Linked DNA regions of Homo sapiens: regions 1, 2, 4 and 5 are each reported to be linked to region 3. The links are microRNA targets in miRTarBase. Many come from high-throughput screens and were not tested one by one. Region 3 holds a microRNA gene; each other region holds the end of a gene's coding sequence.
Evidence for each region. The annotated mature microRNA hsa-miR-4273 reads GUGUUCUCUGAUGGACAG and lies in region 3 at 2,995-3,012, shown strand. An mRNA with a match to its seed (bases 2 to 7 or 8) in the 3' UTR can be bound and repressed. Matches are read on the target gene's strand: a 7mer-m8 pairs with bases 2 to 8, a 7mer-A1 pairs with bases 2 to 7 and ends in A, and an 8mer does both.

Region 1 (5,105 bases), not on the chromosome of region 3:
AGTGAGTTGTCAGTGACTTGGGCTCCTGTGGGCCAGCCTGAGAATCCAGCCCCCAGTGAAGAGCATTGTTTCTATGGCAACCTGCAATTTGTGACCCAAATATCCAGGTTAAGGTTTTCCTATTTTATCTAACTGAATGTATGAGTCACACATTCTAACTGAATGTGTGAGTCAGTGGGGTTTCCCAATGTTCAATTAAAAGTTAGGGTTCTCTTTTAAATATGTGTATTTTTTTCACCCAGATAATCCATTTGTGTCAGCAATAATAATGGAAGACCTTTATTCTAAAATGTCTGTGTTTAGGTAGAAACTTCTGTGATGGCAGGGTTAGTCAAGACCAAAATGGACATCTTTCTTCAGCAAGTAGTTCATTTGCTTTTCCTTTTATTTCTTAAAACCCTGCAGGGCGAGCCCTGCTGAGACTTACTGACAAAAAGCTCGAGCGAATGGGGATTGCCCAGGAGAACCTCCGGCAGCACATCTTACAACAGGTGCTCCAGCTGAAGGTGCGAGAAGAAGTCAGAAATCTACAGTTACTCACACAAGGTACCCTATTGCTTCCTGATGGGTGGATGGATGGGGAGATTAGAAGAAAGACCACCTTACTATTAGGACAGACAGGAGTCAGGGAGAATTTGTTATTGTTTCTTCACAGAATTTCCATCATAGAAAATAGTATACAGATTTAAGATTACTTCCCTTTGAAAACTTTTTTCATAGCTCACTAGGGAGAAGGATGCACAAATAAGTAATGGATGAGCAAACAGAATTACCTGAGCTAACTTCAAGGTGGTCACGTACAGTTGTATGGATTGTGTACTGCACAACCCCAGAGAATACCAGTCACATCAATCAGGGTACGATTGCACTCACTAGAGTTGTATAATGTGCAGCCTGCACAACTGTACAGTCCAGCTGTAGCTATCTTCACCTGCGCCAATTGTGAGGGCGCTTTAGCATTTGAGTGATTCAATAGTTACGATGACCAGTGATATAAGTGGAGTTTTTGTTGTATTTTTGTTTTGCTTTTCACCGGTTAGTGGGAGAAAAACATTTTAGATATGTATTACTATACATGAATGTATTATACACACACACTTTAGAGATTGTAAGAACCCCATTTAGCTTCTTGAAAGTGGAATAATTTTTATAATAGACTATAGTGAATCTAAAACTACACTGTTAAGAGTATATAATTCTTAACAGGAATTATAAATAACTTCAATATGATGAGAGCACTTAAGATCTCAATAACTGTGGAAGTGACAAAATAAAGCTAGAATTCGAAGAAAGCCTTAAGTTACACTATATGTAACTGATATGTCTACATGAGATTTGGATGCTATCAACCTTCATTGGCTATAAACTTTATTTGTTTTATTTTAGCGTCCATTGTACATCGTTTTAAATGAAAGGATGATAAAATATGTGTTTTTGAGAGCCTTGAGTATTTGTCATTCTGCAGAATATTGTAATTGCATGCATACCGATATTGGAGAAATCTGGGTCAGCCAAGTTTCATGTTATTGCATTTAGATTAACCTAGTAATAGTCCATTTGCCTAGAGGAAATAATGTGCTCCCTGAAAGATGACTATTCTAGAAGGATAAATATAGATTTCAAGTGATCGTAAAATAGTATTGTTTGTCTCATATGCATTATTTGCATTTTGTCCTCAGAGATTTCCAATGGTGAATTTACTGGTATACTAAGTGATTTAAATTTGAATGTGAAATACTGATAGGCTTTTAAGCTTCTTTTAAGAAGTAGATAGAAATACGAAGATTATGATAAGAAAGTCTGTCACAGTGCTATTTGGAAAACGGAAAATTTACAAGCAACCTAGAGGTCCAGCAATGTGAAAAGAATCAAGTAATTCTGCTTAAATTCATAAGATTCAGTATAATGCCCAGTTATTAAAATTACATCTTTAAAGAATACATGACAACATGGGAAATTACGTAAGTCATACAAGGTGGGAGGAAAGGTCATGTGTAAAATTGTATGCATAATATAAGCCCAATTTTGTAAAAACCATATATTCTTATATGTACAGAAAAAAAGGACTGCAAGTAAATATGCCAACCATTTTAATAAAGGATCTCTCTGGATTGTGGGATAAGTGGGTGACTTAAATTCTTATTTTTCTGTATTTTCCAAATCTTCTGCAAATTCATATTACAATTATAATCAGAAAATACACATATGCATTTTTTTAAGCTTCAACCACAAGCATAGCTGCCCAGCTTCTGTTTAGTGTCTGGTTTTTGCAGCTCATTCTTTTTCCCTCTGGTGATGATCTATATAGAATGAGACCTAAACTCACATGTGACGCATTATGTGTGCCTTTGACTCTTTTCCTCTACTAATGTCAGCCTGCAGTGTGTTTGCTTTGGAGAATCATTTTCTACAGCTCTCATTGCCCTAGATGCATAATATATAAGATTTTTCCTAAGATAGTACTCAGGTCTATTAAGCTAAATATACATACGTGTTCTGGGAAGATAATGCCCAGTTCAGTCCTTTGAATTCAGTTGTTGTTGTCACTTTCTTGAGCTTTGAAAAGCTGTACATTTTTAATTCTTTCATTCAGTTCCCTTTGGAAGGCCGCATTGTTCTCTAGCTCTTGGGTATTTTGTCTGTGCTGATATTACCTTTTTTATTGCTTGTTCTTTACATAGGTTTTTGGTTTTGGTTTTGGTTTTTTCAAGACAGAGTCTCACTCTGTTGCCCCAGCTGGAGTGCAGTGGCGCAATCTTGGCTCACTGCAACCTCCACCTCCGAGATTGAAGTGATTCTCCTGTCTCAGCCTCCCAAGTAGCTGGGATTACAGGCATGCACCACCACACCAGGCTAATTTTTTGTATTTTTAGTAGAGATGAGGTTTTTCTATGTTGGCCGGGTTGGTCTCGAAATCCTGGACTCAAGTGATCTGCTCACCTTGGCCTCCCAAAGTGCTGGGATTACAGGCGTGAGCCGGTTCTTCACATGTTAATGCTCAAACTCATGTTATGTCAGGCATCCTTCAGAAAATACATAGCCTTATTGAAGTAATAGTTTCTTTTTTAAAAAAAAAAGGAAACAAAATTGATAAGTTGTTTTTATGTTTTATGATTAATAGTAGAAGTTGTAAAGACAGATTAGCGTTAAAATATTTTGGGTCTAGGTTTGCTATAATAAAAATATTAGAATTTCATTCCACTCAGGTGAACTTATTAGTTTAAAATATATATCATATAGAAATTCACCATAGGGGTAACAGATGTTTCAGTAATGAATATTTGATTCTTCATCTCTGTAAATATTACTCAGCAGAAACAATATGCTGAATAAGTACAAACAAAGACTTTGGAATGTTTTTGGAAATCCTTGGGCTTCCCTCTTAAAGAGGGTGAATCACAGTTCTTATCCATAGAGATGGAGTATCCTTCCATGGCTCACGTGGGGCTGTCACTCTGGTGTAATGCATTTAATTGTTTGTTGTTGATGATTATCTAACATGTTCAGGCTGCGGTAACAAAATGCCATAATCTAGGTAGCTTATAAACAACAAAAATTTCTCTCTTACAATTCTGGAGGCTGAGAAGTCCAAGATCAGGGCGCCAGCAGATTCAGTGTCTGATGAGGGCCCACTTCCTCACAGATGACCTTCTAATCATTGTAATGTCACATGGGGTGGGATATCTGTGGGGCTGCTTTTACAAGAGCACCAATCCCATACATGAGGGCTGCACCCCCGTGACCTGATCACCAAGCAAGGGCCCCACCGTCCAATACCATCACCTTGGGGGTTAGGATTTCAATACATAAATTTTGAGGAGACATAACATTTAGACAATTGCATTAATATTTAACAAATATTTACTAACCAACGCATTTTAAGAAGAGTTATCACTTTCAAAGTCCATTTTTGAGGAAAGGAATTTATTTTAAAAATGATTGCGTTTCTTAGGAGTTTTCTTCTTGCCTTTGGAGGCAATTTCAAAATATAGTTTCTTGGAAACAACTTAACTGTCCATCTTGAGGGGAATAGTGAATTAAATAATGGTACACCCAGGCATTGGTGTACTCTTAGCTACAAATACGAGAATGAAGAATACTAATATGGTAGGATCTCTGGGATGCTATGAGATGAGAAAAAAGTAAGGTGCAGAACAATGTATACTATATTTGAACAATGCGTATAGTATGCTACATTTGCCAAAGAGGAGGAAATAAAAATGTATATCCATATGTGCTTTGTTTTAAGGAAATGCTGAATGATGTACAAGAAGCTAATACAAGCTGCACCTGTGGGACAGGGAATATGGTGGATGGAGAGAGGGTGTGTGCCTTTTATGTCACTTTGTTTGATGAAATGTATGAGTATATTAACTATTTAAAGGAATAAAATTTTTAAAAAGAAACAAGAAGGAAAAAGGGTGAATTTTGGCATCAGACAGGCCCAAATTTTAAATCCTGTACCTAACACATTTTGCTGTGCTCACCAAATAGGGATGTTGTAAGAATTAAGGGAGCTAAGATATGTAAATCACTCGATACAGTATGATAGTAAATGCAGAATATTGTTGGCTATCAGTAATAGAAGCCACGCAATTTAATCAACCTCATACATTTATAATAATCCTTATTTTTATAACATCTTCATAGAGATATAATTCACATAACATACAACTTACCCACTTAAGGCTTAAAATTCAGTGATGTTTAGTGTGTAAAGAGAGTGGTGCAACCATCACAATAATTTACATATGCGTATAAGAGAGGATGAAGAGGTTAAGTAATATACTCATAGTCAGACAACTAGTAAAAAGCATAGCACAGGTCTGTCTGACTCCACAGCAAACTTTTACCCATTACGCTTTATTGCCTTTATTATGTCAAATGGGCTAATAATTTCCATCTCCAGGTGGTTGTTAAATGAGATTTTATGTAGAAACCGTATAATAGAGTTCATTGCATATTCTATGACAGAGGTTGGCAAACCTTTTCTGTAAAGGACCAGTTTGTAAGTATTTTAGTCTTTGCAGCCATATGGTATCTGTTGCAACTACCCCCACTAGGCAAAACCCAACCATAGACAATACTTAAATGAATTAGGCATA
Region 2 (5,105 bases), not on the chromosome of region 3:
ATGCTGGAGTGGCCTCTCCTTGGACAAATCCTTCCCATGATCATCCCACTACCTCCTCTCCCTGCCTTAGTGGTTTGGCCCATTGGGCTCACTCACTGCCCTTGGCCCTCCCCTTTTGTTCCAGCCTCTCTGGATGGGTTCTACAACAGTCGCAGCCTGGATGGTAAGTCTCCACCCTTGAGGCCAGAGAAGTGGTCTCCCTGGTCCTGGTTCTCACGGCTCCCAGGTCATGGGCTTCCCAAGGAGGGAGGGCAGAGAAAGAGAGAGGTTTGGGCCTAGCAGGTTAAAAAGCTCCTTCCCTACACCCAGCCAGCTAGAGGGAGCTGGTAGTCAGATGCCCTTGGGCAGAGGTGAGAGAATATGGGCTCCAGGTGACAGAGACCTCTGCTCCAGTCACACCCTCTGTGTCTTCAGTTGCCAAGGCACCTGCTGCCTCCAGCACCCTGGATGCTGCCCACATTGCAGCTGCCATCTTCTTGCCACTGGTGGCGATGGTGTTGTTGGTAGGAGGTGTATACTTCTACTTCTCCAGGTGAGTCTGGCTTCTCTTTCTGCTCTGCATACCTGCATACCTCACTCCTACCCAGTGCTCCTGACTTGCAGGCTTCTCTGCCCCACAGGCTCCAGGGAAAAAGCTCCCTGCAGCTGCCCCGCCCCCGCCCCCGCCCCTACAACCGCATTACCATAGAGTCAGCGTTTGACAATCCAACTTACGAGACTGGAGTAAGTAACCATGCCAGCCTTGCCACCCTATCCAAGACCCAGTTCTTTGCTTCTTTGGGCAGATAACCCTGAGGGTCCTGCCAAGCCCTCTCACTTTTTCCCTTTTCCTAGGGAAGGTGAATTATGGCCTGGCAAACCTAATACAAGTTTCCAACTCCCAGCAGTCTCTTTCCTTTGCAGGAGACGAGAGAATATGAAGTCTCCATCTAGGTGGGGGCAGTCTAGGGAAGTCAACTCAGACTTGCACCACAGTCCAGCAGCAAGGCTCCTTGCTTCCTGCTGTCCCTCCACCTCCTGTATATACCACCTAGGAGGAGATGCCACCAAGCCCTCAAGAAGTTGTGCCCTTCCCCGCCTGCGATGCCCACCATGGCCTATTTTCTTGGTGTCATTGCCCACTTGGGGCCCTTCATTGGGCCCATGTCAGGGGGCATCTACCTGTGGGAAGAACATAGCTGGAGCACAAGCATCAACAGCCAGCATCCTGAGCCTCCTCATGCCCTGGACCAGCCTGGAACACACTAGCAGAGCAGGAGTACCTTTCTCCACATGACCACCATCCCGCCCTGGCATGGCAACCTGCAGCAGGATTAACTTGACCATGGTGGGAACTGCACCAGGGTACTCCTCACAGCGCCATCACCAATGGCCAAAACTCCTCTCAACGGTGACCTCTGGGTAGTCCTGGCATGCCAACATCAGCCTCTTGGGAGGTCTCTAGTTCTCTAAAGTTCTGGACAGTTCTGCCTCCTGCCCTGTCCCAGTGGAGGCAGTAATTCTAGGAGATCCTAAGGGGTTCAGGGGGACCCTACCCCCACCTCAGGTTGGGCTTCCCTGGGCACTCATGCTCCACACCAAAGCAGGACACGCCATTTTCCACTGACCACCCTATACCCTGAGGAAAGGGAGACTTTCCTCCGATGTTTATTTAGCTGTTGCAAACATCTTCACCCTAATAGTCCCTCCTCCAATTCCAGCCACTTGTCAGGCTCTCCTCTTGACCACTGTGTTATGGGATAAGGGGAGGGGGTGGGCATATTCTGGAGAGGAGCAGAGGTCCAAGGACCCAGGAATTTGGCATGGAACAGGTGGTAGGAGAGCCCCAGGGAGACGCCCAGGAGCTGGCTGAAAGCCACTTTGTACATGTAATGTATTATATGGGGTCTGGGCTCCAGCCAGAGAACAATCTTTTATTTCTGTTGTTTCCTTATTAAAATGGTGTTTTTGGAAAAAAAAAAAAAAAAAAAAAAAAAAGCAATGGCCAGGTGAATGATGCTTTCTTGGAGGGACGGGAGGTGGGAGATAAATGGGATATGGACTTCAGGACCAGAAGGCATGCTAGACCCACCAATCAATCATCTTCAGATTTTATTTTATTACTACTGTTTTTGAGATAGGGTCTCACTCTGTCAACCAGGGTGGAATGCAGTGACTGGATCACGGTTCACTGCAGCCTCAACCTCCAAGGCTCAAGTGATCCACCTCAGCCTCCTGAATAGTTAAGACTATAGATGCAGGCCACCACACATGGCTAATTTAAAAAAAAATTATTGTAGAGATGGGGTCTTACTATGTTGCCCAGGCTGGTCTCCAACTCCTGGGCTCAAGTGATCCTCCCACCTCAGCCACCCAAAGTGCTCAGATTTTATTTTAAAAGAAATTATTGCATGCAGTTGAACAGGGTCCCCTGTACCAAAAGGGACAGTGCAACAGATAGCAGGCAAAATCAGAGGCCCCAATGGCTGATGTTACAGGGATGTGGGAGCCCAGGAACCCCACTGCACATCCACCCAATGCCTTATTTCCTCCTCTTTGCCAGGTCCAGAACTACAGGCTGGCACACTCCCAAATCCCTTCTCAACGCCACTGATGCCCTTCTCAATGCTAACTAGGCTCAGGAAGTCTGATGCATCTCTCCTTCCCCTTATTTCTAAGTAAGCAAGGCTTGGGAAATTAGAATAGGAAACAGAGACTGATCCCCAAAACATGAAGCCCTAATCTGGCTTGGCCTTACAAAACCCTTAGATTGTCAGGAGCAGTGGTAATGCAGCTTACGGGCTTGGATCCTAAGTTAGGCAAAGGCCCTAACCATGGGCTCTGGAAAAAGGTGGCTGGGAGGATGTGCTCAAGTTTGCCCCTTCCCTATGGGCCCCAGCACCTACAAAGATGGAAAGTGCCCAGCGTTGGCCCCCAGTATGCACATTCCATGCTGAGAGGTGTGCCCTGCATTGCTGCTCTCCAAGAGTGACAGCAAGAGGCAGGCAACAGGAAATTATGGGAGCTCAGAAACCAGTAGAGAAAAATCCATGAAAGAAATAATAGCAGCAACCAGCACCTTCTGCTTCTACAGTCTTCCAAAAGGGAAGTCTTGACCACTCATGCTGCCTACCCCTGGCTCTAGCACAAGCCACCTTGAAGGATGGAGAAGCTCTTGTCCATGCAGAGTGCAGTGCCTAGATTAGCCACAAGAGGTCACTTCCAAAGGCGTCTGTATCCCACCTGCTCGCCCCTCAATCCCCCCTCAACTGTCAGGGCGGGAGCTCTCCAAGGTGGGAGCATTCCTTGGCCCCACTGGCCTAACCTCATCCTGCAAGTTCCAAGAGGAAGAGGTGTGAAGTTTCCCTGGCTCTTGTCAACAGAGCCAAGTCTTATTTCCCTCATTAGCCCATAGTTCCTATTATCAGCTGCAATTGATGGTGTTGATCAAAGCAAAGCCTTGTCCAGTGGATGGATGCCAATGGCTTACTTACCTGTTCCATAATGCCTCCAGGTTAACACAGCAGCACAGCTGGGCCCTGAGCAGTAGGAAAAAAAGCCAAAGAGAGAGGGCACATGAGGTTCTAAACTCTGAGAGCCTGTGACATAAAATATAGCCATAGGAGATAGAAAATCTTGCCTCTTTCATACAAACAATCTAGCTCAGCCCTCCCCTCTCTGATGGCCACATCTCTGGTCCACAGCTCCTGAAGTTTATTGTTGGCTCAGAATGGTAGAAAGCAGAGGGCAGCCAATTCACATGACATTCTCCACCCCACCATCCATGACCTTATCATTCTTTCCAGGCACCAAGAGGGTCATCAGAAAAGCGAAAAGTCAGGAAAACAGAAACCTAAGACTCCATACACTGACATCCCCACTCTGTCTAACTCATCCTCCTTACTGTCCCCAAAGCAAGCATAGTAATTCCTTAGACACAGTCGACATAGTGTAATGGACAGTGTCTGGCTTGAGAATCAAGAAATCCAATTCTTAGGTCTGCCATAAATGCACTATGTGACCTAGGCAAATCACTGCGCCTCCCTGTGCATCTGGAAAAGAGGGGATTAAATCAGATGGTCTCTAAACCCTTGCTAGTTTGACGACTCTGAGAATGCTGTGTCCCTTAACATTAAAAGTGGGCCGAGCACAGCTACGAAGCAACAATTCCAACTAAACCCCTAGTGTCAAGCACAACGATACAATTCTCTTTTCCACTGCTTCATCCACCATCAGGCAGCAATAACCAACCGCCCATCTCTGACGGCAATACCAAGGGGAGGAGCGGGCGCCCTGAAAAGGAGCATGAATCCCCGCCCAGAATGCGAGGCGGGCCCTCAGACTACAAATCCCGGCATGCAGCACTGACGCTCTCAAAAGTATCCCTTCCTGGCCGGCAAATGACTCTTCCCCGGGTCTATCCTACCATAGAGTGCATCGCACGCACATGGAACTACAGTTCCCACAATCCATCAGACCTATCGCGATTCTTGCTCCCAGGATGCAATGCGCCCCCGTTCGCCCTTTAGACCCTTTGGCGTTGCAAACTGGGAGTTGGAGTCCGGGGTACGCAGGTAGCTGGGCGTTGTCAGGATTACAAACTCTCCACTTTAGGCTTCCTCTTGAAGAGCAGATCTCAGGGACAGTGGTGAAGAGAGGGTGGTAACGGGCAGGCGGAACTCTCCAGTGCCACCACCACGCAAGGCAGGGATGCTGAGGATACAATTAACTGATAAAATTATCTGTCAGGAGCGGGAGAGAATTAGGAACCACAGTCATCCCACACGCCTCCAAAAGCGTCATTTTCTGTCTCAAATGGCTTTTCTCTTTACCAATATGGTGGCCTGGTCCAGCCACACCCGATGGTAGAACCAAACGGTCAAGTACAACATCCCTAGGAATACTGCTGTCACCGACAGGCGACCAGCTCCATCCAACACCACACCTTGCTCCTTTCTGTTCATGCCTGAGGACTCCAAGGGCATGATAGCCCATATCCCATTACCAAAATGGCGAAAGGAGCAGCTTTCTTGTGAGGGCCTGCGGAAGGCAATACGCCTGCGCGGGAGGCGTCTGTGTTATGGAGAGGAAGGGGGAGCACCCCCAACACGCCTGCGCAGAACAGA
Region 3 (5,105 bases):
GTTGCAAGTCTATACTGCAAACTCCAGGGCAACTAGTAAAAACCAAAGTATAGAAATGCTAAAAGAGAAAACAGGCCAGGTATAGTGGCTCTTGCCAAGGTAGAAAGATGGCTTGAGTCCAGGAGTTAGAGACTATCCTGAGCAATACAGTGAGACCCTGTCCCTACAGAAAAGAAAAGGCCAGGTATTGTGGTGCATACTTGTAGTCCTAGCTAATTGCATACTTGTAGTCCTAGCTAATTGGGAGACTGAGGTGGAAGGATCACTTGAACCCATGAGGTTGAGGCTGCAGGGAGCCATGATCACACCACTGCACTCCAGCCTGGGTGACTGTCTCAATAAAAAAAAAAAAAAAAAAAAAAGCAACGAGAGGAAACAAAAATCGTATAAAATCATCAACTCCATAAAAGGCAGAAAAAGAGTGGAGGACAAAGCAAGATCAAAGAATAATAGGAGTTAATGGAAAATGATATGGCAAAATTAATCCAACTGTATAATCACTTTGAATGTCAATGGTCTAAATGCACCCAGAAAAGACAAATTGTTAGAGCCCATCAAAATAGAGGCACATCTCACTTTGAGCTTCACTTTATTTTGCTTGGCAACATCACCTTTTTAACAAATTAAAGATTTGTGGCCACGAAGTGCTCAGCAAGCCTGACCAGCACCATTTTTCCAACACCATGGGCTCACTTCACATCTCTGTCACATCTTTTGGCAATCCCAATCTTTCAAAGATTTTAGTTATCACATCTGTTATGATCTGTGATCAGTGATTTCTGATGTTACTAATGGAATTGTCTCAGCGTGCTGGAACTCTATGGAAGATAGCAAACGTGATGGAAAAATGTTGTGTTTGACTGCTTCATTGACTAGTCATTTCCCTGTCTCTGTTTCTCTCTTCTAGCTCCCCATTCCCCAAGATACAACAATGAAATTAGGCCACTTCACTCTGCAGTGGCCACCATGTGTTCAATTGAAAAGAAGTGTGCACACCTGTCACTTCAAATCAAAAGGTAGAAATCATCGAGCTTAGTGAAGAAAGCATGTTGGAAGCTAAGACAGGCCAAAGCTAAGCTTCTTGCATCAGCTACTCAAGTTGTGAATGCAAAGAAAAAGTTCTTGAAGGATGTTATAGGTGCTACTCCAGAGAACACATGAATGATTTTTAAAAAACAAAACAGGCTTTTTACTGACACAGAGAAAGTCTGAGTGGTCCACATAGAAGATCAAACCAGCCCCAACATTCCCTTGAGACAAAGCCTAATCCTGAGAAAGGCCCTAACTCTCTTCAATTCTATGGAGGAGAAGAGAGGTGAGGAAGTTGCAGAAGAAATGTTTGAAGCTGGCAGAGGTTGGTATATGAGCTTCTAGGAAAACAGCCATATCTGTGACATTAAAGTGCAAAGTGTGCTGTAAAAATGGGAACAACAAAGCCTGCATGATAGGACTTCTGTTACAGCATGGTTAAGACCTTCTTGTTGGTAGGCCAGGAGGTAATGGTCACCATTTGTGTCCATATTCTCCTAGACTGAGCATGGAGAAATCTGTAATAGTAGCCAGAGAGGTGTAGGTTGTGTGTTCAAGGGAAAAAAGAGTGATTTTGAGGGAACACATAGCCTGCCTCAGCTACGTCAGATTTCTCTCCTATATGGGTTTGTTGATGCCTGCTGAGGTGTGACTTCTGGCAAAAGGTTTTCCCACATTCCTTACATTCATAAGGTTTTTCTCCTGTGTGTGTTCTCTGATGTATACTGAGGCCTGACTTCTGGGAGAAAGTTTTCCTACATTCATTACATCTAAAGGGTTTTTCCCCTGTGTGAGTTCTGTGATGTACAAAGAGTTTTGACTTCTGGGAGAAGGTTTTCCTACATTCTTTACATTCAAATGGCTTCTCACCTGTGTGAGTTCTCTGATGTATGGTGAGAACTGTCTTATCGTAAAAAGTTTTCCTACATTCATCACATTCATAGGGTTTCTCTCCTGAGTGAGTCCCCTGATGCGTACTGAGGTTTGACTTGTGACAAAAGGTTTTCCCACACTCATTACATTCATAAGGTTTTTCTCCGGTATGGGTTCTATGATGTACAGTGAGGACTGACTTCTGACAAGGTTTTTCCACATTTGCTACATTCATAGGGTTTCTCCCCCGTGTGAATACCTTGATGCTTCTGAAGATTTGCCTTCTGATGAAAGGATTTTCCACATTCATTACATTCATAGGGCTTTTCCCCGGTGTGAGTTCTCTGATGTATAATAAGGTATGATTTCTGACAAAAAGTTTTTCCACATTCATTACATCCATACGGTTTTTCCCCGTGTGAGTTCTCTGGTGTATGGTGAGGAATGACTTGCGATGAAAGGTTTTTCCACATTCATTACATACGTAAGGTTTCTCTCCTGTGTGAGTTCCCTGATGGGTGCTGAGATTTGACTTCTGACGAAAGGTTTTTCCACATTCATTACATTCATAGGGTCTTTCCCCTGTGTGAGTTCTCTTGTGTATCCCAAGGTTTAACTTATTGATAAAGGTTTTCTCACATTCATTACATTCATAGGGTTTTTTGCCAGCATGAGTTCTCTGATGTATAGTTAGGAATGACTTACAGTGAAAGGATTTTCCACATTCATTACATTCATAGGGTTTTTCCCCTGTGTGAGTTCTGTGATGTACTGTAAGGTATGACTTGTGGCTATATGTTTTTCCACATTCGTTACATGCGTATGGTTTTTCCCCAGCATGAGTTCTCTGATGGACAGTGAGGAATGACTTACAGCGAAAGGTTTTCCCACATTCATTGCATTCGTAGGGTTTTTCCCCTGTGTGAGTCCATTGATGGATAGTGAGGAATGACTTACGGTGAAACGTTTTCCCACATTCATTGCATTCATAGGGTTTTTCCCCTGTGTGAGTTCTCTGATGTAACCTGAGGTTTGACTTATTGATAAAGGGTTTTCCACACTCATTACATTCATACGGTTTTTCCCCTGTGTGTGTTCTCTGATGGACAGTAAGCCTTGACTTATGGCTAAATGCTTCTTCACAATGGTCACATGCATAGGGCTTTTCCCCTGTGTGAGTTCTATGATGTATTGTGAGGTATGACTTCTGGCTAAAGGTTTTTCCACATTCACTACACTGATAGGGCTTTTCCCCTGAGTGAGTTCTGTGATGTAAAGTGAGAAGTGACTTACAGTGAAAAGTTTTTCCACATTCAATACATTTGTAGGGTTTATCCCCTGTGTGAGTTCTCTCATGTAAAGTGAGGAATGACTTACGGCGAAAGGTTTTACCACATTCATTGCATCCATAGGGCTTTTCCCCTGTGTGAATTCTCTGATGGATAATGAGGCTGGACTTATAGCTGAACAATTTTTCACACCAGTTACAGGCATAAGGTTTTTCCTCAGTAGGCATCTTGCACTGTAGCATAAGGTCTGATTTGCTAATGGAGGGTTTCTCACATTCAACACATTCATAGGGTTTCTCTCCTGTGTGTGTCTGCTGATGTTTAGTGAAGTCAGACTTTCTACAGCAAGTTGGCTGTCCTACCTGAGTTATCACTTGGACAATAACAGCTGAGTTATTACAGGCTTTCTCATATTCATTATATTTACCAAAGGTCTGTACTATATGAACCCTCTTATGTATAAAGAACATTGCCTCCGTGTTGAAGGTTTTCCCTTGTTCATTACATTGAAAAGTCTGCAGCAGAGTTTGAATCTTGTGATGCTGAGTAAGATGTTCATGATGTCTGTGGGATCTCCTGGTTATATCACAGACATGAGGTTTCTCTCCAGACTGTGTCTCCCCAGGCTTAATAGGGAAAAGCATGTTCTGGCAATCATTAAACTGCCCAGGCTTCATTCCTGAACTGTTTCCATTATTTATAATCAGATTTAAAACATGGTTTGAGTTCAAATTAAATGTTTTTCCTAATTCAACTCTCTCCTGAGTTGATGTGTTGCTGTTGGTGATTACAATTTGCCAGAAAAATCTATCATGACTTTCATGGCTCCTTTCAATAAGGTCATCAATGATCTGGACAGCTGAAATGAGAAAAAAGGTATCCATGAACCACACATGAGCATGTCTTACAGAATGCTTGTGTAAAGGTAAAAAAAATTACTTCCTATCTCAGTGGAGTAAGATTTGACAAAAATAAATATGGGTATTGGTTTTATATGCATATGGTTTCTGTTCCTACTGACATAATGTAATAAATCAGTATATTTTCTAATGTTCAATTGAGTTTTTCTTTGCATTTTGAAGTTTTCCTGTTCTTTTTTATTTCACAAAGAATTATTTGGTAATAATATGCATCTACTTCCTACTCATAGGTTTTAATAAGTGCTCATTATTGTCATATGTTTTCTCTCTTTTTTTTTATTTATTCATATAACAATAGTGGCTGTTTTAATAGCTGCTATTTTTTCTTTATTCTTCTTTGAAGATAGCCAGTTTTTCCTGGGTCAGCAACTGGTAGGTATAGGAGATGGCCATTTTTCTGTCTCCTAAGCATGGAAGCAGCTTGTGGACAGGATTTTGCCTATATGTTAACCTTTCACTCCTCCCTGAGAATGGTTAAATGTGTCTGGAGGTTTTCCAAGCAGAAAATCTCTTATTCCCCATGTTAAACAAAAACAGATCCTGGCAAATTCCTACTTAAACATGACATCCCCTGCTTCCCAGAACCATAATAGGCACAGAAGCTCCAGTCAAAAAACCACACTGGTGATCTGAAGGATTGGTTCTGCAACTCAGGCTGTGCCCGTCATCTTCGAAAAGTGTATTTCTGGTTCCTTCTGAGATCCACAGCCGTGCCCCTCTCCACTCACCAATCGCTGCTTGATAATTCACCATTTTTGAAGGGTTTTATTTTGTGTTTTGGAGTTTCAGATGTCACACAGTTTTATATAAAAATGAAGTTTCCTGTACATTTCTCATCTTCCAATGGTAACTACAAACTCCACTCTCAAACAGAAATCTGAGCCCTTCAACAGGAAATAATTAGTTTCTTTGGACTTGAGACCCAGAATCTTCTGGTTCTCCTCCCAAGTCCAGCACCACCCCTATCCAGGCCCCTATGATGGGTCCTCCTCAG
Region 4 (5,105 bases), not on the chromosome of region 3:
TGATCTGCTGGCATCAGCCTCCCAAAATGCTGGGATTTCAGGCGTGAGCCACTGCAGCTGTGTTTTTCTTTTCATGGATAACCATGAGGGGCTCTTGGGTCTCTGGACCAGTCATCCTGTCATGAGCTAGAGATAGAAGAGAGCTCAGGCTCACATGTCCTCTGTGGCTGGCAGCTGAGGGCATGGGGCCATCCAGATCCTTAGGAGGCCTCAGCCCTGGCTCCTTCTAAACCAGCTTCTTTCTGACTGTAGGGGCACGTTCCGCTTTGAAAGACCTGATGGCTCCCACTTTGATGTTCGGATTCCTCCCTTCTCCCTGGAAAGCAATAAAGATGAGAAGACACCACCCTCAGGCCTTCACTGGTAGGCCAGCTGAGGCCCCAAGTGCCCAGGCTTGGTCACCGGGAAGAACAACTCTCATCCCACAATTGCTGCAGAACTCTTCTCTCCCCATCATGGGCCACAGTGGGTCTCTTAATTTGATTGTGGGGTTCTTTTTGTGGGGAGGGGTGGTATAACTTTTCTTCAGAAGACCCATGTGGGACACCTCCAAGGCTGGCCTCCTCATAAGCCCTGCCTACACCATGTTCCAGTAAACCTCTCCACCAAGGAACTGTGTTCAGCTGCCACAGGCCTGGAGGAGTTTCCTGGCCTGTCACGTGAGGTTTGATCAGTAAACCAGTGCACGCTTGGCCACCCTTGCCATTTCTGCTCCCAGAGTCTCAGGCTCCCCTTCTGACCCAGTGTGCGCCCTTGACTGCTTTCTTTGCTGCCCTTCCAGGGAGCTGCCCCCCTGGTAGGGCATGTGCCTGTTTCCCTCTCAGCCTGGAGGCTGGCTGGACATCTCCTAGGGTCACTGTGCCTCTCAGCTAGTTGGCGGGGGTGCTGGACTGGACTCTTGTTCACTTTACCTTCTGCCAAATGCAGAGAGGGAGGCCAGTGTCAGGGTCGGAGTGGCCTGGCTCTTAGCACTGACCGACCATTGCCATTTCTGGCCTCGCTAGGCCCAGGAGAGGAGGGAGGCAAGCCAGTCGGGTTTCCTGGAGCAATGGGTGTGCCAGCCCTCAGCATGACTCTGCCAAGCATCCAGACCACAAATGCAGGAATTTGGCTGAGGAGCAGCTTTAGGTATGGATTGATGACTAAGTCAAGCTACTTCCTGAGCTTCTCTCAGATTTCCAAGAGCCAGAGATGAATTGTGCTGCATCTTGCCCCAATTCTTAGGATTTCTTTTCCTCCGCCACTGCAGTGATTGTTAGAGGTAGTTTTCTTGAATTAATATTAAATCACAGTTCCAGCCCTTGTTATTCTTGTCCTTAGTCCTCCAGGGGGAGCTGGGGTTGCAGGGCAACAGTACAGTCGCGCTTACGACCTGGCTAGAACACAAGGTCAGATGATAAACAGAAGCACAGGAACTCAGCCCATGGCCGCAAGCTGGTCAAGGCCTGCTCACTGTAAACATGGCTCTGTACCATTGAGTTTAACACAATTTTATTAGAAATTAGTGTTTGCTTCCATCACTTATGCTGAGCAACCAAATATTACAGTTATGTGATAAAGGAAAAATTCTTTCCTGCCCAGGACCTGCGCCATCCTTTAGGCCGACCTTGGTCACATACCAAATTCAATAAAACCCAATACTGGCCTGTGTTGTTAACAGCAGGCTGCCAGGTTTCTCAGAAACTGACAAGAAAATCTGACCTTCATCCATACTTTGTTTACTTACCCCTGGGCTGCTTGGAGTTGAAAAATGCACACAGCCAAGAGTTGCTTTCTGAATAGGGCTGGAAACTTTCAAAGAAAACCCCCAAACTTTTAAGTCACAAAGTCTGATTAAAGAAGCTAAGATCATGTCAGTGAGTTCAATGTTAGTATTTTCCTTAAGACCAAGGAGAGATTTTCAGTCAGAGAAGATAAATGCCCAGTCCCAGACTACTGTGCTTTCTCGGCAAAAAAGACTGAGACACTGAGGATGTGAATGTCAAAGTAGTAAGCAGGGACTAAAGGGGATGGGGAGGTCAAAAGGCAAGCATCACAACACCTCAGTGGGGAGCTGGGAATTTGAGTGTTAAAGGACCTCAAGAGGGCAGCTGAGAAAATAGGCCAGTGGTCTCAGGCTGACGCATTCCAGTCTCTGTGGGAAAGTCATAAAGCCAAAGCCTGAATTTGGCCAAAGAAGTGGATTTGTCTTTATCTTGTTACCTCAATGAGGGCTGGAAGAACTAGTAGCTGATCACCAAGGTACCTGACCTGAGAGTCTTAGTGCTGTTTATACATTCAAGACTGTGACTAACATAAAATGCCTAATTAGAAAGTCACATTTCCCCTGTCCCGCCGTCATGTCACTTCAGGTCCTTGTGTCTAACCCTGGGTCTGGCATTTGCCCATAGGCTCTGTGGCATCAGCTATCATAAGAGTAGTCAAGAGAGATGAACTTGATAACCTGTGTTCTCTCCAAAGAGCAGAAAGTGGGTACTATACGTGGCTACGTTGCTTTGTTAGGCTGGCAGAACAGTCCCTCCCTGACAGCATTCCTTTGGAAAATAATTCAGATAAGCTGAATTCTGGTTTGGCCAAGCCAAACAAAAAGGAATGAAAACCAAAGCCCTAAAGAGGAACTCACCTCCTGGCTAGTGCTTGGCATCTCCATGGCTGAGTTACCCAACAAGGAGTGAAGGCCTTCAGGGTGCTTCGGTTGCTCCTGTCATCCCGCGCTCAGAGACACCACTGGGCAGAACCGCCATCCCAGCCAGCACCAACCAAGAGCATAGATGGTGTGGGCAGGGAGTAGATGTGTGGCCAAGCATGTGCCACCTCTGTAGGGGCTGCTGGGAGTTTGCTGTCCTCAGCTGATGGGCATGCCAGCCAACACCATGCAGTGCCCACGGGCTCCACGGTCTTCCTGCCGTGGCTCATGTTTCTGGCCCATGTGACAGCTCTTTGGCTTTACCGTATGTGAGGACAGCATGGCTGGAAGCCAAGGGTACTCAAGAGAATCACAAAGAGCAGTCGTGCTAGACCTAGGAGTCAGTGATGTGACTATGATGTGGGGGTAAAATGTCCTTTCTCACAGGCACCCTGTGAGGACTGCCGGTCCCAGCTTAGCCATCCTTCCCTCCTCGGTGCACTCTGAGCTGCTGGCCAGGCTGCAAAGCCAGAGCTGCTCTGTCGGATGTTTTTTTTTTATTGCTTCCTCTTTATCCCCTCCCTCAGATTGATTCTGCAGGGAAGTGGGGATTAGGGTAGAAAGACATGGGTCAAGGAGATTATCAACCTCCTGAATAACAGTACAAAGTGCTTTAAAGAAACAGATCCCACAGGCATGGAGAAGGGCCAAGGGTTCTGTCATATGTAGGGTCTTGGCACCCTGGAGGGCAAAAGAAATGCTCAGTTTCCTCATTACTAGATTTAGAATTATTCATTTCCTAGATTATTTTTTAAAAACCAAACTTATCAAGCCTGTGCTTAAACACCTTAGGAAAAAAGACGTCCCACTTTCTGCACCAGGGCCTCTACAGCACCAGAACTGCCTTTCCCCCAGCTGAGGCCTAAGGGGCAGTAGCCTTCTGCACAGGGCCTAGGGGAAGGTTCTCAGCAGGAGGTGGGTCAGTCCATATGCCCCAGGGAGCAGAAGCAGCTCCGTCGGGCAGGAAGGGTGATGGTGAGCAGATAGGACAGGACGCAGTCTCCAGAAGTGCTCAGGGGCAAGGCAGGGGAATGTGGTCCCTCCTCTGCCCAGACCCTCTGACCTCTGAGCAGGGCCTGTCATGCCTCTGGGTGCTAGAGCAGAGACCCAGGCAGCAGCAGCATGGGGTGGCCAATGGGGCGGGTTCCACAGGATGGGAGATAGGGCCTCCCGTGCCCTGACTCCCTGAGGGTCTGGTCAGTCGCGATGGGTAGACTGGTGGCCGAGCTGCCGGTCATCGTAAGTGCTGTAGCGCTTGACGTGGATGCGGCGGACACGGTCCCGCAGTTCAAAGGTCTCCTCATCTTCACTGGGGGAAGCCTGGCTGCGGCTACGGCTTGTGGCCTCCAACAAGGAGTTGTCGGGGACGCGGGGAGTCTCATAGAGTAGGACGTTGAGTGTCTCCTCATAGATTCGGGCCTCTGGGAATTCCACCTGGGGTTAGGGAGGAAGAAGGTGGAGCAAGGTTTCATCTTCAAGAGGAAGCCATGCGTCAGAGCGGCTGGCCCTGAGGCTCCATAAGGCCTCCGCTACCTCTCATAAAACAGGTGGCGGTCCGTCTCCAGGGAAAGCCAGCCTCCCTCCGAAGGCGGGGTGAGGGGATGTACTCTACAGACATGAGGACAGGGAAGACCAACATCCTCCACACCCCTGCCCCAGCCTGAGACCAAGGGACTAGTGGGCATAGAGGGTGGGCCAGAGCTAGGTCCCAACACAGCTCTACCACTTGCTAGCTGTGGAGCCTTGGGCTGAACCCTTCTGGGCTGCAGCTCCCATATGTACAAAAGGTTGGTTCAGCTCAACCCCTGAGAGTTGCTGTCAACATTACGGGAAAGATGTGATTGCTTAGCAGAAGATTGGCACACAGCAAACCACCAAGCAGAGGCATACACAGAGCAGCTGCTATGCTGAGTGGTTATGCTGCCTTTCTCTGCCTGCCTGACGCAGTGTGTCACCGGCATGACCTGCCTGGAGGAAGGAGAAAGGGAAGGCAGTCAAGCACCTGAATTCTAGCCAGACCTGCTCTGTTGGACTGAGCTTCTGTTCACTCATCTGTCACATGGGGAGAGTGGCTCTAGCCCTGCGTGTCTCACAGGCATGTTGTGAGGGGTCACACGAGTTCATGAAAGACAACACACTTAAGAAGATGCCAGGTGCGCTGCCACTTCCGTCGCAGCATCACCAGCCACTGGAGACCTGCCCCTGAACCCTTTCACCACCGATAGGGTCAGGAACCACCTGTCGCCCTCCCTCCCACCCCTACACCAAAAACCGCAGAAGGAAGCAGGGCCACCTGTAAGTTGGCCTTCCCCAAACCCTCTGCAGATCTCCCAGCTGGAGGCACCTGGAGTAGTTTGGGGGTCGACAAGTTGCTTGGCAAGTCTGGCTACTTTGAGCTCTTCACACCCACATGGCCCTT
Region 5 (5,105 bases), not on the chromosome of region 3:
CCAGGCTGGAGTGCAGAGGCATGATCACAGCTTATTGCAGCCTGAACTCTCAGACTGAAGCCATCTTCCCACCTCAGCCTCCCTAGTAGCTGGGACTACAAGCACATGCCACCACACCAGGCTCATTTCTTTTCTTTTTTATAGAACTGAGGTCTCACTATGTTACCCAGGCAGGTCTTGAACTCCTGAGTTCAAGTGATCCTCCCACCTTGGCCTCCCAAGGTATGGGGATTACAGTTGTGAGCCACCATACCCGGCCTCATGTTCCTTTTTATCATCATGTGATTTATGAGTGCCAGAGTACTTACTACCTCTAGCAAATAGAATTGGGTAAAAAACAAATGGTAATTGGAATCAGAGGATCTACTGCTTGCTGTCAGCATTGTTGCCATTTAATGAATGACATAGTTATGTAATTCGATTCATTTTGTCTATTCATATATTCATAAAATTGAAACAGAATTATAGATTTGCTTTTGGGAAAGAGTATGTATTTTAAGCATTTCCTGGTGGCCCTGAGTCTCATGTGAGTTCCTGTTTCAGGCTCAGGAAGAGGCCAAAGAAGCAGAAATGAGCAGAAAGGAGTTGGGGCTTGATGAAGGCGTGGATAGCCTGAAGGCAGCCATTCAGGTAAACTTGGCAGTTTGTTGCCACATCTTTAATGATCTGATTCCTACTGCTAATATTTTCTTTGGAATGTTGTATTTTGTTTTCTTCTTTTAAGACATAACCGCATACCTTCTATTTGTCCTTTTAAAGTGTACAATTTGGTGGTTTTAAGTGTATTTACAAAGTTTTACAATTATTAACACCAATTGTAGGACATTTTCACCATTCCAAAAAAACTCCATACCCATTAGTAGTTATTCCACTTTTCCAGCCCCTGGCAACCACTAGGTACTTTCTGTCTATGGATAATGTTGTGAAAGCTTGTGTTTTAACTTCTCAAACAGAGCAGACAAAAGGATCGGCAAAAGGAAATGGACAATTTTCTGGCTCAGATGGAAGCAAAGTACTGCAAATCTTCCAAAGGAGGAGGGAAAAAATCTGCTCTCAAGAAAGAAAAGAAATAATGGAATTTTTCTCTTCAAAGGTCCTTAGGTGTAAATTGATGCCATCGTAGGCAAGGTGCAGGCAGGATTTGAAGGCAAAAGTCAATTCAGCTCTTGAGAAAAGGTGTCTTTCCAGCCTGAATTTTTCAGATTGACTAGACCAAGCAGAATCTCTCAACCTGATCTTAGTATTTCCTAGAAAGCACTTGACATTGTGTGAGGTCTCACCTGAAGGAACTTGGTGGTGACATTTGGGAGGGTGGAGGGAGGCAGTGTCCTTCCTGACAGCACTTGCCTCCATGGATCTTCTGTACACAGAACTCTTATCTAGGATGTGGTTCTGTTCATGCTGCTTTCTGCGATGTGCGTGTCTGTTAGAATAGGCTCTCTACCCAGCTAGAACACCTTCCAGACACTTGCTGGACAGCTATCTTCCACATACTTCCCAGTTTACATTTGGTCTTAATGATCTTGAATAGATCCTCTCTTCATTTTACTCAGCCAGGTTTTGTACTGATGTACAGGTGTTAAATTACTTCAAGCATTTTTGTAAGAGGTGTATATAATTCAATAAAAAAGGTAAAACATGATGATTAAGTTCTGGGGGCTTTGTAAATGATCCCACTAAAATGTGACCTAGGAAAAATATGAATGGTGTTTAGGATGAGAGAAAAGGGGAAAACAATAGCCCTGGTCAGCTTTATAATAGAGAGCCTGGTTTCCCTAGCATGAAGAGATGTATGTTGTAGTCCTGCCACTGATTACTGAAGTCCTGCCATTAATTGCTGAATGTCTTCAGTTGGGCCACTGAGCTTGTCTGAATCTGTTCCCTTTTATAAAAGAGTTACTACATCAAAACAAAGAGTGAAATCCAAATTTGTCAAACTGTATGTATTAAACATGTCCAGTTTTTTGGTTAAAAAAAAATTGCACTGGCTTTGAGGGAAAACACACAGGGTGAGGGAATTGGGCTAAATGACTTCTTACAGGCCCCTTTCTGATTCTTTAACTTTGAAAGGCAAGCCATATTGATCCAGTTGTTATAGTGAACTCATGGTAATGGTTTGTGAGAACAATAGAGATTTTCATTTCTATGTAGATGAGTTGGTATGAGAATATATGGAATTTTTAAGGGACTGTTTAAATCTTTGATTTGTAGACTATTAAATATACCGTATGCATAAAGTAAGCCTTTAGCTCTAAGGTAAAGACGACACGTTTTCGGTTTGTGACTACAAATAGGTTAAAAATAGATTTTAATTTTATTAAAAATATAATTTAATGCAGGTTGTTTGAAGCATCTGTCTTCATATGATGGCATTAGAACACCTTGGTATAATAAAAAGTTACCGTAATTTATGATTATTTGAATTTATCCATTCTGAAAATTAATAAGATCTAAAACTGGCATGACAATCAAGATTTGTATTTAGTGAAATTTAAAATAAATGTAAGCCATAGTTAAAACTGTTGCTGCATTCATGAATGCCCTTAGGAAAAGGTCCACAGTAAAATCAGAAAGCTGAACCTCTCCTGCTGTTTATAGGATATGTTTATGCTGAATTAATTGCCAGGGTTTCTTAAACTTTTAGGGAATTATACTTTGGTGGCTCAATAGTAGATTCTACAAATTATTTTTAAATTGATTTCCTTTCCTTAGAGCTGCAGGAGAATATCTGGCAAGGTGCATTTAATATTTGGAAAAAAGATATGACCAGTAACCTACTTTAGGAAGAAAATAAGCATCACCTGGCATCAGGTAGGCATCGTAAGGTTGAGCTGTCCTATCTGAAAAAATATGCGATATAATTTATTACAGAAGTTACTTTATACTAATGCTTAACATTTATGTTTTTAGTTACACACCCCTTCCATTTTAATCTGCTGATAGGGTAGGACATCTAAAGAGAGTTTTAGGAATGACATCTATTTGATGAGGTCAGATTTTCAACAGCAAAATGACTTAAAACTGAGTACAACTCTCCAGAAATGAACACAGGCTGAAGTATTCTGAAGCCAGTGATATTGTCACTGATGATTTGCTGCTTTTTGTGTATGTGTGAGCTCATCAAATCCTATATGATTGAACTGATCATTGTTAAGAGATAACATGAGCAGTGATTTGGGTATTATTCACTGTTGCATCTTTGGGTACAAACTTGCCTTTCCAATGGGATAGGTTAATTTCTGCTGAAAGAGACAGTAACTGGAGATAGAAACAACACTCATGTCATTTTTGGCTGCTATGGTGTTTTGTTCTTCGGTCACTTGTGCCAAAATCACTCTTCATGAAGATGATTTCTAGTCGATCTTCTATACAAGCTCTGCATCACTTGATGACTGAATACTGCTTCATGAAATCTCGTGTTTCCTGCAGCCTGATAGATTCTTCTCATTTGCCTTATGGTCCCTGCCTGGTTCGAGAGACTGGTCTGCCTCCGCTTTGAGATTTTGTAGACCCATGTAACTGAGGACCTGTCAGATGACATAGAGTAACATTAGTAGACAGTCTAGGTTTGATAATCACTCTCAAGTTTATAGCTAAGGGCTTTTTTGCTCCAATTATGAATTGGACTTTCTTAAGGTATGAAAGCAGTAAACTAGTTTTGTAGAAGAGCCCACTAATTAAAAAGAAGCAAGATGTCTGATTTACTCACTTCCACTTCAGTGTTACATAAGTTATACCTGAGGTTTTTTTTTTTTTTTGGAGGTGGAGTCTCACTCTGTCCCCCCAGGCTGGAGGTGCAGTGGCATGATCTCGGCTCACTGCAAGCTCTGCCTCCCAGGTTCACCTCATTCTCCTGCCTCAGTCCCCCGAGTAGCTGGGACTACAGGCATCTGCCACCACACCCGGCTAATTTTTTGTATTTTTAGTAGAGATGGGGTTTCACCATGTTAGCCAGGATGGTCTCAATATGCTGACCTCGTGATCCGCCCGCCTTGGCCTCCGAAAGTGCTGGGATTACAGGCATGAGCCACCACGCCCAGCCAGTTATACCTGACTTTCAATGTGGCTGAAATTGTAGCTCAAATGCAGATCTGAAAGCATAATCTGACAAAAGCATTCAAAGACTACCAGACAATGCTGCGGGGAACTGAGCTGAGAAATCACTTGGACTACAAAGATGGTTTGAGGCAGACTAGTTTTTTACCATAGTTGCTGATTATTTTGATCATTAACAGGAAACATCTCAGCTGTCCATTACTTCTAAATTTACCTTCAGCATAATAAGAATGACCCTGATGGTGGTGAGAAGACTGTCACAGGAAGAATTAAGACATCCTGCAGCCTGGGCAACATAGCAAGACCCTGTCTCTACAAAAAATAAATTACCTGGGCATGGTGGCACTGCTTGTAGCCCTAGCTATGTGGGAGGCTTAGGTGGGAGGATCCCTTGAGCCCCGGAGTTCGAGGCTACAGTGAGCCATGATCATGCCACTGCATTCTGGCCTGATCAGCAGAGTGAGACTGTCTCAAAAAAGACATCCCTCAATTTTCTCCCATCACTTCTTTGTTAGTACATCTACAGAGTATAATTTAAAGATAAAAAGAGTTAATGCGATAGAATCAGACTCAGCATATCCTGATGGTTTAGAATTTCTTTTCTTACCTTGGCCTAACAGATTAACTGATCAAAGCAGTTTAATCCATAGGAATATGGATTTTGCCTGCATAATAAAATCCATGCTATGTTCTTAAAGAATATTTTGAACATTACAACAAGGACTAATTTGGGTTGAACTTTTTAGATTTAAAAAAAAAAAAAAGGCAGTTTACCAAAGTAGTGAGAAGTTAATTTACATGGTATGAAGAAAATAGGAATCTGAAACTTTTTGGCTCTGAGCAATAGAACTCTCCTAGCTTTTTATTATACCCCATGTTCCAAAATGAATTTTAGGTGATTTACAAAGATGTGGGAAAACATTAAATCCAAGAAAATCTGAAAGAAGGGGAAATAGGTGTAGGAAAAAAGACAAAGGCTGGGTCTTAACACAACCACACAGTAGTAAATAAGGGCCATGGCCCCACCTTTACCTGCAGATCCCCTGCCA

Region 1: miRTarBase lists SAMD12 as a target of hsa-miR-4273. The part of its 3' UTR that is shown has no 7-base or 8-base seed match.
Region 2: the mRNA of SEZ6 is a reported target of hsa-miR-4273. Seed matches in the 3' UTR shown: 8mer at 1,902-1,909.
Region 4: the mRNA of POLDIP2 is a reported target of hsa-miR-4273. Seed matches in the 3' UTR shown: 7mer-A1 at 408-414.
Region 5: the mRNA of DNAJC9 is a reported target of hsa-miR-4273. Seed matches in the 3' UTR shown: 8mer at 2,121-2,128.

The regions. Positions count from the first base shown.
Region 1 is chr8:118,375,001-118,380,105 of GRCh38, reverse strand. SAMD12 (sterile alpha motif domain containing 12) reads left to right here. Exons shown (of 4, transcript NM_207506.3): 4 at 406-2,122. The coding sequence ends at 689. The region is part of intron 4 of LOC105375724 (a long non-coding RNA gene); the gene reads right to left. Among named protein-coding and RNA genes, the nearest start is that of SAMD12-AS1, 240 kb to the left of the region's middle.
Region 2 is chr17:28,951,777-28,956,881 of GRCh38, reverse strand. SEZ6 (seizure related 6 homolog) reads left to right here. Exons shown (of 17, transcript NM_178860.5): 14 at 125-163; 15 at 415-532; 16 at 621-723; 17 at 888-1,977. The coding sequence ends at 920. LOC105371716 (a long non-coding RNA gene) reads right to left here. Exons shown (of 5, transcript XR_001752822.2): 1 at 3,474-5,105. Among named protein-coding and RNA genes, the nearest start is that of PHF12, 2.8 kb to the right of the region's middle. RefSeq lists enhancers at 4,240-4,861, 4,563-4,972, 5,073-5,105.
Region 3 is chr3:75,735,296-75,740,400 of GRCh38, forward strand. It overlaps MIR4273 (microRNA 4273), which reads left to right and starts at 2,985; the gene lies at 2,985-3,068. It overlaps ZNF717 (zinc finger protein 717), which reads right to left. Exons shown (of 5, transcript NM_001290208.3): 5 at 573-4,050. The coding sequence ends at 1,583.
Region 4 is chr17:28,343,379-28,348,483 of GRCh38, reverse strand. It overlaps POLDIP2 (DNA polymerase delta interacting protein 2), which reads left to right. Exons shown (of 11, transcript NM_015584.5): 11 at 253-1,851. The coding sequence ends at 367. It overlaps TNFAIP1 (TNF alpha induced protein 1), which reads right to left. Exons shown (of 7, transcript NM_021137.5): 7 at 1,475-4,120. The coding sequence ends at 3,884. It overlaps LOC124903963 (a long non-coding RNA gene), which reads right to left and starts at 254. Exons shown (of 2, transcript XR_007065687.1): 1 at 155-254. RefSeq lists enhancers at 2,786-3,289, 3,793-4,296.
Region 5 is chr10:73,239,368-73,244,472 of GRCh38, reverse strand. DNAJC9 (DnaJ heat shock protein family (Hsp40) member C9) reads left to right here. Exons shown (of 5, transcript NM_015190.5): 4 at 544-630; 5 at 954-2,519. The coding sequence ends at 1,073. FAM149B1 (family with sequence similarity 149 member B1) reads right to left here. Exons shown (of 14, transcript NM_173348.2): 13 at 5,089-5,105; 14 at 1-3,527. The coding sequence ends at 3,454. Among named protein-coding and RNA genes, the nearest start is that of DNAJC9, 5.3 kb to the left of the region's middle.